Linked DNA regions of Homo sapiens. The protein of the gene in region 1 purifies or fractionates together with the protein of each later gene. This does not show direct contact. Each region holds a gene or a part of one and is shown in the gene's direction. Other genes may lie near its edges. The genes, in order: DHRS12, LTF, PLCD1, HEPHL1 and DSG4.

Region 1 (3,521 bases):
ATTGAGCTCCTAATATGTTCCAAGTGCTGTCATAAGTGCCTTAGATGCGGCATCTCATTTAGGCTGCCCAAGAGGTATCTCTTATTATTCCCTTTCTGCAGATGAGGAGATAAGAGCTCAGAAAGGTTAAATCAACACACAAGATGGCACAGCTAGTAAGAGGCTGAGCTGTGACTTAAACCCAGGTTGTTCAAGCCCTTGTTACTGATATTTTTAAGTTTCAAGTCAACCTTTTTGGGAAGGCTTTGGAATAAGAAGTCTTGCTTGCCACTCACAGCAGAAGCAATGGGTAGGGTGTTCTCTAAGCTGCCCTGCATGTTCTGGTGAGTTACAGATGGTGAAAACAGGAACATTTTTCTTGTTCTCTTAAGAACATCTGGCTTGACTGAAACAAGTGGCAATGCCTGCCCCGTGGCAATGACTTTCAAACCAAACCCAAGCTCATAAACATCCTTTGGCCACTTCCCCGAGTTCCAGAGCATGTAACTGGCAGTTGTGCTGTACCAGGGCATGGGGCAGGAGGCCAGCTGTTGGCTACCCTTTTGTAAACAGGTCCTGTGGGAGGGCTCTCAGCATCTGTGGAGCCTTGAGATCAGAGTCCCATCCTGCATTGCCCAGGAGAAATCTCTCGGCTCCGTAGGTGAGAGATGTAAGCTCTGAGACCCCAGCCTGCCTGTGCGTGGGCAGAGTCTGCCCTCTGGGCCTCCACCTGCCAACCCCACCATTCTGCCACCACTGCCCTTAGCCAATTTCATAGCCAGGAAATACTAGAAGAGTAAAGGTAGAGAGGTATCGCAAAAGGAATGGGAAAAAGAAACAGTTAAAGAACTCACAATTGCATCTATCCAATATGATGCCTTTGTGCAAATCAGAAAAAATACCTCTTCTGCAATATGCTTTTCTGCCACCTGCCAGAACATTATCATAATGCAGATACAAATATCCCATCATTCTGATCCGAATGGCACTCCCTAGAGCTGTGCAGTGCACACCTTGTGTCCCTGAAGGAGCCTTGGCTTCCTCTGATGGGTGCAGAGCTTAAATAACTCTACCATCCTCCTCCTTTATTCCCTACTTGCAAATCTCCCCCGTTTCTCCAAGTAGGCAAGGATATCTGTCCTGCAATGCAATAAGCACAATGCAAATGGTCTCCTAAGCTTCCTGAAACCTGCCCCCCACAAAAGGGAAAAGAGCAATTCATCTGTCAAGGGATTTTTTTTCTTTTTGCCACTCCCCAGGATCGGGGCAGTCAGAGGAAGACAATTTGGATGCCAAAATGTTGGAATCTCCAATATTTTCAAAAGTTTGGAAAGATCATGGTCCAGGAAATGCAGGCCCCGAGATAGTGGTGTTTGTGAGAGCAGGGAGGGCAAGGGAGAAAGGAGTTTCGTGATGTGTTGGGAGAGGCGGAGACAGCAATAATGCCCATCCTAGAATTAGGCTTTCTCCTGCAGGGGTTTGTGTTCCCCACTCCTTACAGCTGGTCTTCCTGTGGGTCTCCTCTTTCTAGGAGTGGCTATGAATCTGCATGTAAAGACTTTGTCCCTCATGACTTGGAGGTCCAGATTCCTGGAAGAGTCTTTTTGGTCACTGGAGGAAACAGCGGCATTGGCAAAGCAACTGCCCTTGAAATCGCCAAGCGAGGTAAGCAGCTGCTAACACGTGTGTCCACTGAGCCCCACGGCCAGACTGCGGCCGGTCCACACTGAGGAGGGCACCCTGTGTCACAGGCAGGCCAGGAAGTCCTGGACGGCGATCCCATGGTTCTGGGCACAGCTGCCAGCTTTCTGAGTTTTGAGCTCCAGGTGGCTAGAGCAACAGGAGCCCTTTCCTCAACACTTAATTAATTCTCAGGCGAGCTTGGGGTCCTGCCCACGTGTCCCAGTGTTTTCTGATTAAGAACAGCGAGGGGCTCAAGCAAACCCTGGACATCAGAATCCCCAGTGGAATTTAATTAAAAAAACAAAAACAAAAACATGAACACCTGGTCTCTAACTCATGTCTTCTCAATGAGACTCTCCTGGGGTGAGAGACAAGGGGAGGGGGAGCCTCAAAGTCCACTGCAATTTGGATGTGGATGGTAGTTATGAACCAAGGCCCCCAAAATACCTGGAGAGAGGAGTGCATTGAACTAAACTTCCTCCTTGCTGGGGTCCAGCCTCCAGGGCTAGAGCAGCCTCCCGCTTCCCTCCCCTAAGCTTGACTATAAAGAGGTGCTTCAGGTGCACTGTAAAGTCTTCAGTCAGCAGAAGTCTTCCTCATGGTAAATGCCAGAATTTCCTGCATGAGCTCAACGATCCTGGGTCACCAAATGGCTCTGCAGTGGCTAGAAAAGTTTGCTGCATCTCTCCAGAGCCTCTTCAGGAAAAATGGATGTTCCAGCAGAAGGTGGGGAACTAGGTTGTGAATTTATCACTTTTTAAGATGCTGAAGATGTTTTCTTTTTTCCTCTCTCTAAATCCAAGTTAGGCATTTTTCAGGGGACTATTATATCATTTGAAGCTTTATTTAATTATCTGCCAAGTCAGGGAGAGGATTAATTGCATCTTAGCAGCTGGGAAGCACTCTGAAGTGCGGAGAGGAGGAGAGAAGAGGGGCTAGTGTTGTGGTTAGCCTGTAGCCTCCCATGAAACACCCCATTTAATCAAGTGGGTGATTTTTAGTAAAGAAAGCAGACTCCATAACGATTCGTTCTTAGCTGCCACGGCGAAGGCATTCTGCTTTAAATTGACCTTGATTGATGATGGTGTGGCATTTGCTGGGATAATATGAGGGCTGCTGATGGACTCAACATTCAGTCAATACTTGAGTCTCTACTACATGCTAGGCAAGTGGCTGTCTACTTTGGCTGAACATTACATCACCAGGGGAGCTTGTAAAACATACCCAGTCCTGGGCCTATCGCCTAGATCTTTAAAAGCTCCCTACATGAGTCTAAAGTGCAGCCAGGTTTAACACATCTGGGTCAGCTACTATGCTAGATGCTAGGGAGGCATATGTGACCCAGATCAATGTTTCTTATCCTTGATGTGTTCAGGCCCTCAAAAAATCAGGATGTTATTCCAGACGCACTGTCAGCACAGGTAGGCAATAAGGTTCCAGCACCTCCCTCACCATCGCCCTTGCTGCTCTTAACTCTGGGAACCACCCATCTAGGCTTAACAGAAGAGTGTCAACTGTGAGCCCATATGTCTTCATTTTTCATTAGGAAGAGCTGGTTTCTGTAGCTCTCGCTGTAACTCACAGATGGTTTCATTGAATTCCACCAGGTGGCACAGTTCACCTGGTTTGTCGAGATCAAGCCCCAGCAGAAGATGCCAGGGGTGAGATCATCCGGGAGAGCGGTAACCAGGTGAGCAGCTCCTCACCCCTCCTGCTGGGTTTCCTTGCCTCCATGGTCAGCTGTGAGGAGGCTGGACTCCTACCCGCTTTCCCTGGGTTGAAGAGGGCCTGTGTTTGTGCTTCTGCTTTGGAAGCAGCCTCGGCCAGCAGGGAGCTGGGCCCTGCTTTTGAATGGCTAG
Region 2 (2,901 bases), on another chromosome or scaffold:
GTTGCAGATGATGGAAGATAATCTTCCAGCCAATGTTTGAACAATCACTCTCTCTCCTGGTCCTCAGCCATTTGCTACCTTCCAATCTGCATCTGTCTCCTTAGCCCCACTTCAGCATTCCAACCCCCAAGTCTCAGCAGGTGACTTGCTATTCTGTTTCCTGAGAAAGAACTGTCTCCACTTTCGGCCTCCCTCCTTCAGTAATCACTGCAGTCTCAGCCACTTCTCCCTTCTGCTTCTGCTCCTTCTAGTGTCTCTTGGGACAGAGATTAAAACAAGACATGTAAATTTGAAATTATTTCAATATCAAATAGAGGAATCCAAGAGAATGAATAAAGTGCTTTCTTAAAGGGAGAGAGCAGAGAGACAAACGGGAGCCGGAACAATGAGCCGGCATCTGCACAAACATAGACATGCATACAATTACATTTAGAATTTACAAGCCATTAACTGAAGTAATCTCCAGGGATCAGATTGATGTCAAATTTAATTTTAACTTTCTCCGGTACTTTACAACTGTATTTTGTTAGAATTGGCTGTATATATTTGATAAACCTATAAAAGTTCCTTTCCTTTCTCTGGTTACACTAATAGCATTTGAATATGAAAGGGAGGAGAAACCAATTTCTCCTTGAATGTAAACCATCTATTCTTTTTCTGGAACTCACTGAAAAATATGGCATAGGTGGAGGGTTTTCTTCTTTAAAAAAATAAGAACTCTAAACAGCTTTATTGAGGTAGAATTCATATACTAAAAAATCCACCCATGCAAAGTGTACAATTCAGTGATCTCCAGCACATTCACAGAGTTGTGCAGCCATCAACACAATCCAACTCTAGAACGCTTGTATCCTCCCATAAAGAAACCCTTGCACCTATTATCAGTCATTGCCCTATCCTTCTTCAGCATTGGCAACCATCAATCCACTTTCTGTCTCCATAGGTTGGCCTATTCTGGACATTTCATATAAATGGAGTCATATAATATGTGGTGGGTTTTTTTTTTTGAGATGAGGTCTTGCTATGTTGCCCAAGCTGGTCATGAACTCCTAGCTTCAAGTGATTCTCCCACCTTGGCCTCCAAAGGGCTGGGATTACAGGCATGAGCCACCGTGCCCAGCCTATTGTGTGGTCTTTTGTGACTGGCTTCTTTCACTTAGCATCGTTTTCGAGGTTCATGCATATTGCAGGATGTACCAGAACTTCACTCCCTTTTATTGCTGAATAACATTCCATTGCATGGACACAGCACTAATATTTGGTATATTTGAAGTTTGTACAGCTTGTGTAGGATGAAGCTCCTTCTCTGTTCCTCACATCACCACAACCCCAGTGTGTGCATTTGGGAGGTCAGTGGAATGGCCACACCCACCCAGAAGAGACTTCTTGGCTAAGCAGGGGAGGCGTGGATGATGCCACCTTCTTTTTCTCCCCAGGAAATAACAATGAGGCATGGGCTAAGGATTTGAAGCTGGCAGACTTTGCGCTGCTGTGCCTCGATGGCAAACGGAAGCCTGTGACTGAGGCTAGAAGCTGCCATCTTGCCATGGCCCCGAATCATGCCGTGGTGTCTCGGATGGATAAGGTGGAACGCCTGAAACAGGTGTTGCTCCACCAACAGGTATGGACCACAGGGCTTCTAGTGCTTTCTTAGCTGTGTGGGCTCATGTTAGGTGAGGAGATCACAGAGCTAGGTGCACCAGCCCACTCGATCCTCTCTAGTCCTCTACTTGAAGCTCATGGTGAGAGTATTGGCTTCATGCTGTGGCGTTGCCCAGAGTGTCAACAAGAACAACAGAGGCTTTTGACTCTGGGCTTTCTGGGACTCACTCCATTTCTGCTGAGACTCTGTGCCCTGGCCTTGTTGCCATCACTGCCTGGCTCAGAGGCTGTCTTTTTCCCTCCTGCTGTTCTTCTGGCAAATGAGGAAGCCACTGAGCCTTCCTCCCACATGCATTAGTATAGTGCTTTTTACTCAGGTGACATTTCCTGAACCTGGGCCGAGTGAACAGTGCTCTAGGCCAGGCCTCTAAAACAGCAAACTCAGAAGGTGCCCTATAGATTTAGGGCTCTCTAAATGTGATTTGAACGAAATCCCAAAATTTTCTTAAAATCTGGGATTTTATTAGAACTTCTATTTTTATCATATAACATCATGTCTCTGTGTGCTTTTGAAGAAAACAACTCAGGAATAACAAGACTGGCCACCATAACTGGCCTTTATGGAGCTCTTAATGTGCACACACAGTGGTGCTGGTGAGAGAGCTGCCGTGACTGAGGGGTTTGGGTCTCAGTCTCCCCACATGGGAGCCTGGGACAGAGCAGGAACTGTGTGAGGGAGGCAGGGTGACCGACCTGCACACTGAGCTGGTTAGTGGCTGAGCCTGGGTTTTCCTAGCAGCCTGCCTCTCTAGAAGAGCTGCATATTAGAATGTCCTGAGCAATTGACTTGTGAGGGCAGATCTCAAAACCCCTCCATTGTTGCCTTGTCACCCATAAGAAGTTGTATGGGAAAAGGTCACAGGTTAAGAAGGAAGGAAAGATGGCAGATGGTAGGAGGTAGGACCAGAAGTGGTGCGAGGCCTGGATGCTGCCCAAGGCGGGCCTGCCACCAGGAGTGTGGGGTGGGGGACTCCACTAAGGAGGTGGAATGACTCCAGAACTCAGCTCCTTCTGCCCCATGGTTTTCTCAGGGCTGTTCTTGGGTGGAAGAAATACCCCTTTGCCTCCTTTAACCCATAAATTCCTCTTTTCCTTAGCTACTCACTGTCTGCCCTTTTGTCGCAGGCTAAATTTGGGAGAAATGGATCTGACTGCCCGGACAAGTTTTGCTTATTCCAGTCTGAAACCAAAAACCTTCTGTTCAATGACAACACTGAGTGTCTGGCCAGACTCCATGGC
Region 3 (2,844 bases), on another chromosome or scaffold:
TCAGGAGGCTAGGGCAGGAGAATTGCTTGAATCCAGAGGGCAGAGGTTGCAGTGAGCCGAGATCGCGCCAGTGTACTCTAGCCTGGGCAACAGAGCAAGACTCCGTCTCCAAAAAAAAAAAAAAAAACTTCATTCTAACATATATATGTTTTCCAAATTGTATATATATGGGTATAGATGTGGAAAAGAATAATTATGACAGAAAGCCAGGTGAAAAAAGTCAAGTTTAGAATGGTCCAGCCAAGCACGAGATTCGTGTGCTGAAGGCTATTCAGCAGGTGGAATATCCATTTCTTTAGTGTTGGATATTTATTATTATATATTATATGTTGAAAACCAGTCCAGATGGCTCATATCTGTAATCCCAGCACTTTGGGAGGTCAAAGCAGGAGGATTGCTTGGGCCTAGGAGTTTGAGACTAGCCTGGGCAACATAGGGAGACCCTGTCTCTACCCAAAAAAAAAAAAAAAAGCCAGGCGTGGTGGTGCGGTGCACACCTGTAGTGGGAGGATCACTTGAGCCTGAGAGGTCTAGGCTGCAATGAGCTGTGATTGTGCCACTGCACTCTAATCTGGGCGACAGAGTGAGATCTTGTCAAAAAAAAAAAAAAAAGAAAAGGAAAACCAGAAGGATATACTTTGGAATGTTGATAGTATTTATCCCTAGGTGATAGACTACGGGAGATTTGTTTGATTGTTTACTTTTCTGCATTTTCTAAATTGTCTACAGTGGGCCCTTTTGTAGTAAGAAAAGAAATGTTTTAAAAATTTTGAAAGGTTTGAAAACCAGCAAATAGAAAAAGACCCCTTAACATTTTCCTCTGAAGAGGCCACTGAAACATGGATGTGTAGTAAGTCAGGCCTGCAGGGAGCTGTGGCTATAGGTGGCTTCAGCTGGAGCCATCCATGGCTCTGGCTGGGACCTTGGTAGGTTCCAGGGTTCCTGGGTTCTTTCCTTACTTCTTGCCCAGCTGGATTCACTCCTGCTTGCGAAAAGCTGACAAAAACAAGGACAACAAGATGAGCTTCAAGGAGCTGCAGAACTTCCTGAAGGAGCTCAACATCCAGGTGGACGACAGCTATGCCCGGAAGATCTTCAGGGTGAGGCAGGAAGTGGGGGCTGGGGCTGCCTGTCCATGGGGCCCTTGACCCCGGCCCAAGGCCTGCTCTGAGCCCACTCGGCTGTCCTGGCTCTGCAGGAGTGTGACCACTCCCAGACAGACTCCCTGGAGGACGAGGAGATTGAGGCCTTCTACAAGATGCTGACCCAGCGGGTGGAGATCGACCGCACCTTCGCCGAGGCCGCGGGCTCAGGGGAGACTCTGTCGGTGGATCAGTTAGTGACGTTCCTGCAGCACCAGCAGCGGGAGGAGGCGGCAGGGCCTGCGCTGGCCCTCTCCCTCATTGAGCGCTACGAGCCCAGCGAGACTGGTGAGAGCCTGACCAGGGCCTGCTACCTGCAGTCGCAGGGCCGCACTGGGCTGGGAGACCCCTGGGGAGACTGCAGCCAGAAAGAAGGGAACCGGAGGGAAGGGGCTGCCTCAGCCAGCCCCGGGGCCCTGCTCCACACTTTCTGGTCCTATGAAAGCCGGCAGATGAGAGACAGGGCTCTGGCATCCCTACCCTTCTCTGGTCCTGTTTCCCTCTTGGCACCTCCTTCAGGGGGCTTTGAGGACCCCTTCTTCAAGAAACAAGAGAGATGGCTGAAAAGCAGATGCTACTCCTGCTTCTTTTTTTTTTACTCATTCTTGGCCCAGCTTTGAGATGTGATAGAGCAGAGAAGATGGGTCCCTGCCCTGGAGGGGGCTCCAGTCTGGAGGTACAGAGAACGGGGAGATGACACCCTGTCCTCAGGGGTCTTAGAGTGTGCAGACAGGGGAGGAGGAGGAGACAGGGCCCCACTCTGGAGTAGCCACAGTCTGGTCGAGAGCCTCAGACTTATCCTAATTCCAAGAGCTCTGGAAGACTGGCTCAGGACAGGCAGGCAAGCGGGTTCAGAGGGCTCCTCTGTCCAGATGGGTGGGCAGCCAGGAGCGCCTGCTGGAGGCTGGCTCTGACGGGCAGTGGCCTCCTCCCTCCCAGCCAAGGCGCAGCGGCAGATGACCAAGGACGGCTTCCTCATGTACTTACTGTCGGCTGACGGCAGCGCCTTCAGCCTGGCACACCGCCGTGTCTACCAGGACATGGGCCAGCCACTTAGCCACTACCTGGTGTCCTCTTCACACAACACCTACCTGCTGGAGGACCAGCTAGCCGGGCCCAGCAGCACTGAAGCCTACATCCGGTGCTGCTCAGGGAGCCTTGGGTCGGGAGTCTGGGTGGGACCCGGGACAGGACCTGGAGGGTCCTAGCCACCACCCTCCCCGCAGGGCACTGTGCAAAGGCTGCCGATGCCTGGAGCTTGACTGCTGGGACGGGCCCAACCAGGAACCAATCATCTACCACGGCTATACTTTCACTTCCAAGATCCTCTTCTGCGATGTGCTCAGGGCCATCCGGGACTATGCCTTCAAGGTGGGAGTGCCCCTGGCAGGTGAGGAGTGGGATGCTAGGGGTGGCCCACCACTCCTAATGTGCCCTTGGGCCTCCAGGCGTCCCCCTACCCTGTCATCCTATCCCTGGAGAACCACTGCACACTGGAGCAGCAGCGCGTGATGGCGCGGCACCTGCATGCCATCCTGGGCCCCATGCTGTTGAACCGACCACTGGATGGGGTCACCAACAGCCTGCCCTCCCCTGAGGTGTGTGGTGGGGATGGGGGATCCCTGGGGGAGGGTGGGGAGCCTAGCCGGGGCGCTAGGTGTGTCTTGACCAGTTGCCCCTCCCCACCTAGCAACTGAAGGGG
Region 4 (3,521 bases), on another chromosome or scaffold:
AGAAGCACATCCAGATGGTATTAAAAATTATTAATCTAATAGGGAGGGTGCAGCTTCACCAAACTGAATGTGCAATCTCCGTCTCCACCCTTCCTTTTTCCAAGTGACATTTGTCTCAATCTCATCTTTTTTTCTCCTTGGTGAAGAACGTTCCTTCTCAAGCTCAAACAATATTTCTTGTCCTTATTGTGACTCTTATGATCTCACATGTTGGATCTGACCACACTCTCTGCTAACATTATTTTGCAGTTTATCTTCATCTTATATTTCCCTGCCCTCTACACAGACATGTGGGCTCTGGACAGTAGAGTTGGCAGTTAACATTGTAAAACTGTGTTTACTGTCAAATGCATGTTTTGCTTCCCAACTAGATGGTAAAACTCTTGCATGCAGGGACTGAGATTAATACATCTTGGCCCCAGTTTCTAGTTTTATGTCCCAGACATAGTAGATGATCAGCAATTGCTCCAAGGAAGCTATCAGAAAACATCCCTCTAAAAGATGCAGAGGTCATGGGATTGCTGGGTGGTTTATATCCCTGCAAGCTACGAACTCCTGAGAATCTAACCTGGAAGTCCAACTCTGTACTGTGTAGGGGATTCCCAAGGGCAGGTTTGTTCTGATAATGATTAATCTCCTCTGCTTTTGGAAGATATCTCCATCCACAGGATTGGCCCCAGGCACTGGCAATGTAATGTTCCAAGTCCCCATCTTGTCTTTAAGGCAGTTGTTAATGTTAACCTTCCTGGCCCCACTGGATTCTTTTGCAGCAGGAAGTAGACACCTCCTTAGCTTGAGTCAAGATGTTAGAATGCAGATTGAAAATGTTCTTGAGGAATAGTGATTGCTCAGCCCCTCGCCATGGCTACGTGATAAACAACAGATGGCTCACCAATGCAACATTCTAACAAATATACTCCATTTAAATTGGAGGTTGCTTCATGGGGATGGCTCCCTTGAAGTTACTTCCTTACTTTGTTTCTTGGGCAAATTTGCATTTTATAGAACTCAAAGGAGCTGGAGTTTCTGTTCTACTATTACAAATGCATAATATGTTCTCAATGGGTGGTTTGCTGTGTAGACACTAAAACAAACTACTTTCTCTTATTTCTATCCCTTCCCACTTCTTTTTTTACTTTCAAGCTTTTTTTCCTATTAGTTAAAAAAGTATAGGATCTCACTGTATTGCCCAGGCTAGTCTTAAACTCCTAGCCTCAAGTGATCCTCCCACCTTGGCCTCCCAAAATGCTGGGATTAGGCATGAGCCACCACACCCAGCCTCAACAAATTTTTATCAAATAGTTACTATAGTTTTTGTTTTGTGTGAAGTATCTTCCTAGGGCACCTTCATGGGTCAACCCTGTCCTACTCTTGATGTGGAGTCAGTGCAGGGGAAGAAGTCCTGGGACAAGGAGGAAGCTATGGGTTCTCTTCACTGTCTGAGCAGGAGGCTCCTCCTGCAGCAGAGGAAGAGAGGGTCTTGCAATAATAATTAAATGCCCCCACCCAGAAGTGACACGTGGCATTTCCACTCACAGCCAATTTGCCAGAACACTATGGCCCATCTAACTTGCAAAAGCAGAATCACTGTGGTCTTCTTTGGTTAGGAGGAAAGAAAAATTAGAATACGCAAGCCCTAAAAAGCTCTACTACAGGAATCATTTGGTGATCTTAGGAAAAAATACAGATACCATGGTCTTGCCAGTAGAAAGTCTGATTCCATTGCCCTGAAGTGGGGCCTGAGAATAAAAATTTGGCAAATGTTCCAAATGATTCTGATGCAAGTGGTACATGGGTGGACATTTGGGAACCACTGCTTTAGAAAACCCAATCCCCCCTTGGGGTGACTATTGGCTGTATAGGTGATAAGACTGATATGTGTCCAGGAATATGAAAAACAGTCAATGTATAACTCAGTGCCAAAATATGAAGCATACCATAAGTGCTCCAGTCCCTACAGGGACTCAGCAAACACTTCACTGCCCCTCCTGATACTTATTTTGCCTCTTATTTAGTGCCTTTGCCAGACAACTCATGGTAAGACCTGGTCTTGTGGAGGTGATGGAGAAAGGTCTTGGGCAGAGGTGGGGTCAGGACCTCTTAGCAGATTAAAAGCAGGAGTACATATGTGAAGATGTGAGCATGTGTGCTCCACATGCATCTGCATGTGTGTATACTTTTGTGTCTTCATGTGTGCAGTGGGAGAACAGGGTAGAGAAGTAGAGTCCAATGTCCATCCTTCCCTATAGGGCCTGTTGGAATGATAAGGTCCTATGAATAATAGTTTTGTATTATAGTTTTTACCCATCAGGCTGAACCCAGAGAGCATACCAGGGATTCTGAATCTAATCCTTGCTGTGCCACCTTACTGGGTGACCCATTGTCAGCTATAAAACTGGGCAACTCTGAGGCTTATTAGCAAGCTTGGGGATGACTCAGTTCTTCCTCTGCCTCTTCCTCTTCCTTCTCCTTTTGCACAGCCTGTTCAATCAGGAGTTGTATTCAGCTACTCTTTAACAGAATCCTGAAAAACAGAAGTGGTTTAAATCGATTAAAGATTTATTATTATTGCTTACATAAAAGAGAGCCAGAGGTTGGCAATCATCTGGGTCCCAGGTTCCTTTTGGCTCTCACTTGACCATTCCTAGGGTGTGACCCTCTTCCTCGTTATCTCAAGATGGCTGCTGGAGCTCCAGTCATCATGTCTACATTTCAGGCATGAATAAAGGGAAGAGAAGAGGAGAAAAATGGTGTCTTCCAGCTACACCTGGAGAAGTATCATTGAGTGACTTCTGCTTACATCTGATTGGCTAGAATTATGTCACATGACTATTCCAAGTTGCAAGCAAGTCTGAGAAATGTAACAGCCTCTATTATAAAGGTCCAGGGGTCAGGCATCCCAACTTTTATATCCCATTCTCTTGCACAGGGAAATGTAAGTCTTTGCCTTATAGAGTGGGAGAGGGCTAACTCTTGCTCCTGGGTAGACACATGCAGGCTTAGTGGATGCTTGGATACAAGAGACCCAGAATGTTCATACACAGTCCCAAGACTTCAGCCTCAATGCCTGAGAGGAGAGTTGGCAAGCCAGAGGTTGAGCAGGGATAGTGAGCAGATGCCATGCTCTCTGCTCCAGAGGCCAATCCCCTTGCAGAGCAGAACTCAATCCAACAACACCCTTTGTTGTGGCAGCTTTGTTTTTAGAAATAGAAGGCATGCAAGAGAATTTTGGCCCCTTGGAGGCCAAACAGCATGGGTCTTCTTTTTTTTTCAATAAAACGTGAGCTTGTTTTTAGTATTGAATTTGTAGGTACAGAGTAACCGCCCCTCCCCCTACAACAGTATAAAAGAGGATGAGTGAAAGTAAACTTCTCCTCCGTCCTCCCTCCCACCTGTGGCTTCAGTCTCATAGTCTGGAGGCTACACTTTGTTTCCCTGGTCACTTTCCAGATGTATTCTTTGCATATGGGTAAATGTGCATTGTTACACACACACACACACACACACACACACACACACAC
Region 5 (3,521 bases), on another chromosome or scaffold:
AACTCTACAGCAATTGAGTAGTGGTTTCGGGTAAGCTTTGAGTTAGCGGTTCTCAACCCTAGTTGTACATAAGAATTAGTTAAAGGTCTTCCAAAATTACTCATACTAGAGTCATACTCAAGATGAGACCAAGCATCAGCATGTTCAAGCCCTTTGGTGAGACTAATGTGCAGTTCAGGGCTAAAAACCCAGTGCCAGCTGCATTTCCAGAACGTTAGCACTAAGAATTTCAAGACTTTTTCCTGACCCAGACAAAGAAAGCATGAGAGTTGTTCAACTGATGGATTGTAGAATAGGAGAGGAATACCCCTATGGACACTTGTTTTCAATGGAGAAGCCCATGGTCTATTTTAGGAGAGAGGGGGCAGTGTGATGGTAGTGGGAGGGATCTGAGCCCAAACCTATGTTCCCAAAGGGCCTCAAATTGACACTTTTGATGTTAGCTCCAAATGAGATTACACATACAGTAATTGTATTGGGTATGTGCTAAAAACACTTCATTTCATTTATTAGATAGTGCCTTTGTTAGAGTTCAGGCCTGCAATGGTACATGATCCAGCTCACATTTAAATTCACAGAAATATAGAATAGGCAGAACCATGGCCTAGGGGCTACCAATTTTAGTTTTAGTCCTTTTCCAGAAAATGCTATGGAAATGTATAACTTGACCTTTCACTGTTCATAGTGCAGATGGCAAAATTGCCAAATTAATTGTTGTAATAAGACTAAAGCTGATTTTGCAACTTTGATAGTCTCTTCTTTTGTATCTGTTTTTAATTTTTAATTTTTGTGGGTACATAATAGGTGTACATATTTATGGGGTACATTAGCTGCTTTGATACAGGCATGCAATGTGAAATAATCACATCCTGGAGAATGGGGCATCCATCCCCTCAAGCATTTATCCTTCTATTCTTTATCTTTAATTAACCCACTTAGTAAAATGCATGCCATGCTAGAGAATTAGGAAAGTATGAAAAGCAACCAGAGTGGGCCCAAAGAACTAAACAGAGTGTATTCTAGAATCTTAGAAAACTTAAGCAGTGTCTATATTTATGGATTAAAATACAGAATTGAGGTGATTATTAGGGTAACAAATAGGAAATTTCCTCTTAAGAAACACTTGGATAGCTAAACATTTTTGATAGCTTTAATTTTTCATTATAGTCTATAAACAAAGTCTTAAAATAATTGTAAATATCTCCATTAAATTTAGTGAGTATTATTTGACTTCTATTTTAAGTGTAACTGTAATAAGGATTGAAGATAGGTCCTATCTCCAGGTCCTATAGCTGAATCCTGTATTCAATCCTCTTGATAACATATATTCATGATGCGTTTAACTTACATGTATGTGTGCATCTGCCCCAACCAGTTCAAGAGTCTTAGACTAAAGACGACCTTACTTTCCTAATCTGTCAGCAAAGAAATTCAATTACCTGATCGCAAACTCCTTGCCATCTAGCGCTAAAGTTCTATGTGATTTGGTGGTGCTGTATTTATAAACTTGGATATGTATACTCAATCCCCTAAAGGAAAAAAATGAGATTTTCTTACATATATTTGTATTTTTGTTCTAAATATACTGCCACCAAATGCTCCCCAGAATGATTCATCCAGTGACTTCCTAAACCGAGCAATGTGTGTTAACTCGACATTGTCACTTTCTTGGGCAGTGGCTCCACTCTTGCTGCTCCTGTGTTGCTGCAAACAGAGACAGCCAGAAGGCCTGGGAACAAGATTTGCTCCTGTGCCTGAGGGCGGAGAAGGAGTGATGCAGTCTTGGAGAATTGAAGGGGCCCATCCCGAGGACAGGGTAAGTGGACTGTCACTCTCCAGAGAAGTGTGGAGTTTCAGTGGAAATTGAGCATGTCTTAACAATTACATGCTGCACAAAAATGAACAGATGTCAGTTTTTAAATGTTTAACATAAAGCGTTTGTTTTTAAAATGTTTATTTTTCTTTTCAGGATGTGTCAAATATATGTGCACCCATGACAGCCTCAAATACCCAGGATCGGATGGATTCCTCTGGTCAGTAGACACCAAAATCTGTTTTTCCTTTTAAATTTTTCAAAATTATTCAACCAGACCAACTTCATGTAAAAGTACCTTATGGAAAAGTCTGTCAGTCTCTTTGGGTGACAGTATAATTAGAGGGAATGTGACCTGTTTGAAGTAGCCACTTTTTTTTTCTATCTGAAACTACAGACAGTGAAGTATGACACAGCAGTTAAAAGAGCAAACTCTGGAAGCAGAATGCTTGGGTTTGATTCCCAGCTCTGCCACTTGCTTAAGGGTTGCATATCTTTTATCCGAAATGCATAGGACCATGAGTTTGAGTTTGGCTCAAACTTTTTGTACCATGATGATCAAAAAGTTTCAGACTTAGGAGCATTTTGGATTCTTGATTATTGGATTTGGGATGCTCAACCTGTAGTAATAAGTCCTTAGTCAAGACATTTAACCTCACTGGGCCTCAGTTTCCTTATCTTTAAAATTGAGCTTATGATAGTACCTACTTTAAAGTGTTGCTGTGAGGAGTAAATAATACATATTACATATGTAATATATAATACATACATATATTGTATAGATTATTTTATTATATATAACATACATGTGTATGTGTGTCTATATATATACACACACACATATATAAGTGTGTATATATACATATATCACAAAATATACGTTAGAGTAGTGCCTGGCACTGTAGTAATTATTTATAATACAAGCTGTTTTTTTTTAAAGAGCTAAAGAAAAGGCAGTAAATGTACTCTAATAATACACTGAATAACTTTTCTTAACTTCAGACAAGCTTTTGCCTCAAAAGAGTGTCGTAAACTCTCCTATCTTACCAGCCCCACGCATATCTAACAATACTGAACACACTACTTAGCTATATGGCAATGATTGCACCAAACAGAGAGGGTGCTTAATTCTGCAGTGCACGTGAGCTTTCTCTGATGGTTCCTTAGTATCCCAAGCTTGGCCCTTTGTATGCAAAGAAACTCCGTGACTGAACATCCCTGTGAGCCCAGCTCCATCCTGTTCCGGAGTGAAGGAGGACTATGAGCTCAGTTTCTGCAATCACGCCGCTGGCCTTGCTTTGGAGGGCTCCCGGCTGGATCAAGCCCGCAGCAGCCACGGCGGGAACGGGCGCCTGCTTGTAGTTCTCTTGGCTAGTTCTACACCTTTAAGTCTAGGGCGAAGTCTGTGCAAATGTGGGAAGGCCACGTCCCACCACTGACTCCCTCTGTGTAATTAATTTACTTTTATTTGGTCAACAAGCCTGGAGATGTATCGGTGTAACTTGTATCTCTCTTTGTCAGCTTTTTAGCGCCTACGCCTTGCCGGGTGGTGGTGGCACCGCAGACGGCGGCGGCAGCGTTTTAGGCAGATGCGCGCTGCAGGCAACTCCAGCGCTGTTAAACCAACATCCTCCCTTTTCAGAAATCTACACCAACACCTATGCAGCCGGGGGCACGGTGGAAGGAGGTGTATCGGGAGTGGAGCTCA

The links.
Region 2: the proteins of DHRS12 (region 1) and LTF purify together in Homo sapiens (affinity purification with mass spectrometry; one large-scale study listed by BioGRID and IntAct). This does not show direct contact.
Region 3: the proteins of DHRS12 (region 1) and PLCD1 purify together in Homo sapiens (affinity purification with mass spectrometry; one large-scale study listed by BioGRID and IntAct). This does not show direct contact.
Region 4: the proteins of DHRS12 (region 1) and HEPHL1 purify together in Homo sapiens (affinity purification with mass spectrometry; one large-scale study listed by BioGRID and IntAct). This does not show direct contact.
Region 5: the proteins of DHRS12 (region 1) and DSG4 purify together in Homo sapiens (affinity purification with mass spectrometry; one large-scale study listed by BioGRID and IntAct). This does not show direct contact.

What each region holds. Positions count from the first base shown.
Region 1 is NC_000013.11:51,797,657-51,801,177, reverse strand, and holds part of DHRS12 (dehydrogenase/reductase SDR family member 12), read left to right. Parts: intron 1-1,510; coding exon of another isoform or gene 1,511-1,518; coding exon 1,519-1,644; intron 1,645-3,269; coding exon of another isoform or gene 3,270-3,352; intron 3,353-3,521. UniProt on the Homo sapiens protein: Putative oxidoreductase.
Region 2 is NC_000003.12:46,438,016-46,440,916, reverse strand, and holds part of LTF (lactotransferrin isoform 1 preproprotein), read left to right. Parts: intron 1-1,436; coding exon 1,437-1,621; intron 1,622-2,787; coding exon 2,788-2,901. UniProt on the Homo sapiens protein: Transferrins are iron binding transport proteins which can bind two Fe(3+) ions in association with the binding of an anion, usually bicarbonate. Lactoferricin binds to the bacterial surface and is crucial for the bactericidal functions.
Region 3 is NC_000003.12:38,009,800-38,012,643, reverse strand, and holds part of PLCD1 (1-phosphatidylinositol 4,5-bisphosphate phosphodiesterase delta-1), read left to right. Parts: intron 1-970; coding exon 971-1,100; intron 1,101-1,198; coding exon 1,199-1,430; intron 1,431-2,081; coding exon 2,082-2,283; intron 2,284-2,368; coding exon 2,369-2,513; exon of another isoform or gene 2,514-2,590; coding exon 2,591-2,740; intron 2,741-2,832; coding exon 2,833-2,844. UniProt on the Homo sapiens protein: The production of the second messenger molecules diacylglycerol (DAG) and inositol 1,4,5-trisphosphate (IP3) is mediated by activated phosphatidylinositol-specific phospholipase C enzymes. Essential for trophoblast and placental development.
Region 4 is NC_000011.10:94,027,847-94,031,367, forward strand, and holds part of HEPHL1 (ferroxidase HEPHL1 precursor), read left to right. Parts: intron 1-3,521. UniProt on the Homo sapiens protein: Is a copper-binding glycoprotein with ferroxidase activity. It oxidizes Fe(2+) to Fe(3+) without releasing radical oxygen species. May be involved in the regulation of intracellular iron content.
Region 5 is NC_000018.10:31,407,776-31,411,296, forward strand, and holds part of DSG4 (desmoglein-4 isoform 2 preproprotein), read left to right. Parts: intron 1-1,676; coding exon 1,677-1,816; intron 1,817-1,969; coding exon 1,970-2,033; intron 2,034-3,334; coding exon of another isoform or gene 3,335-3,455; coding exon 3,456-3,521.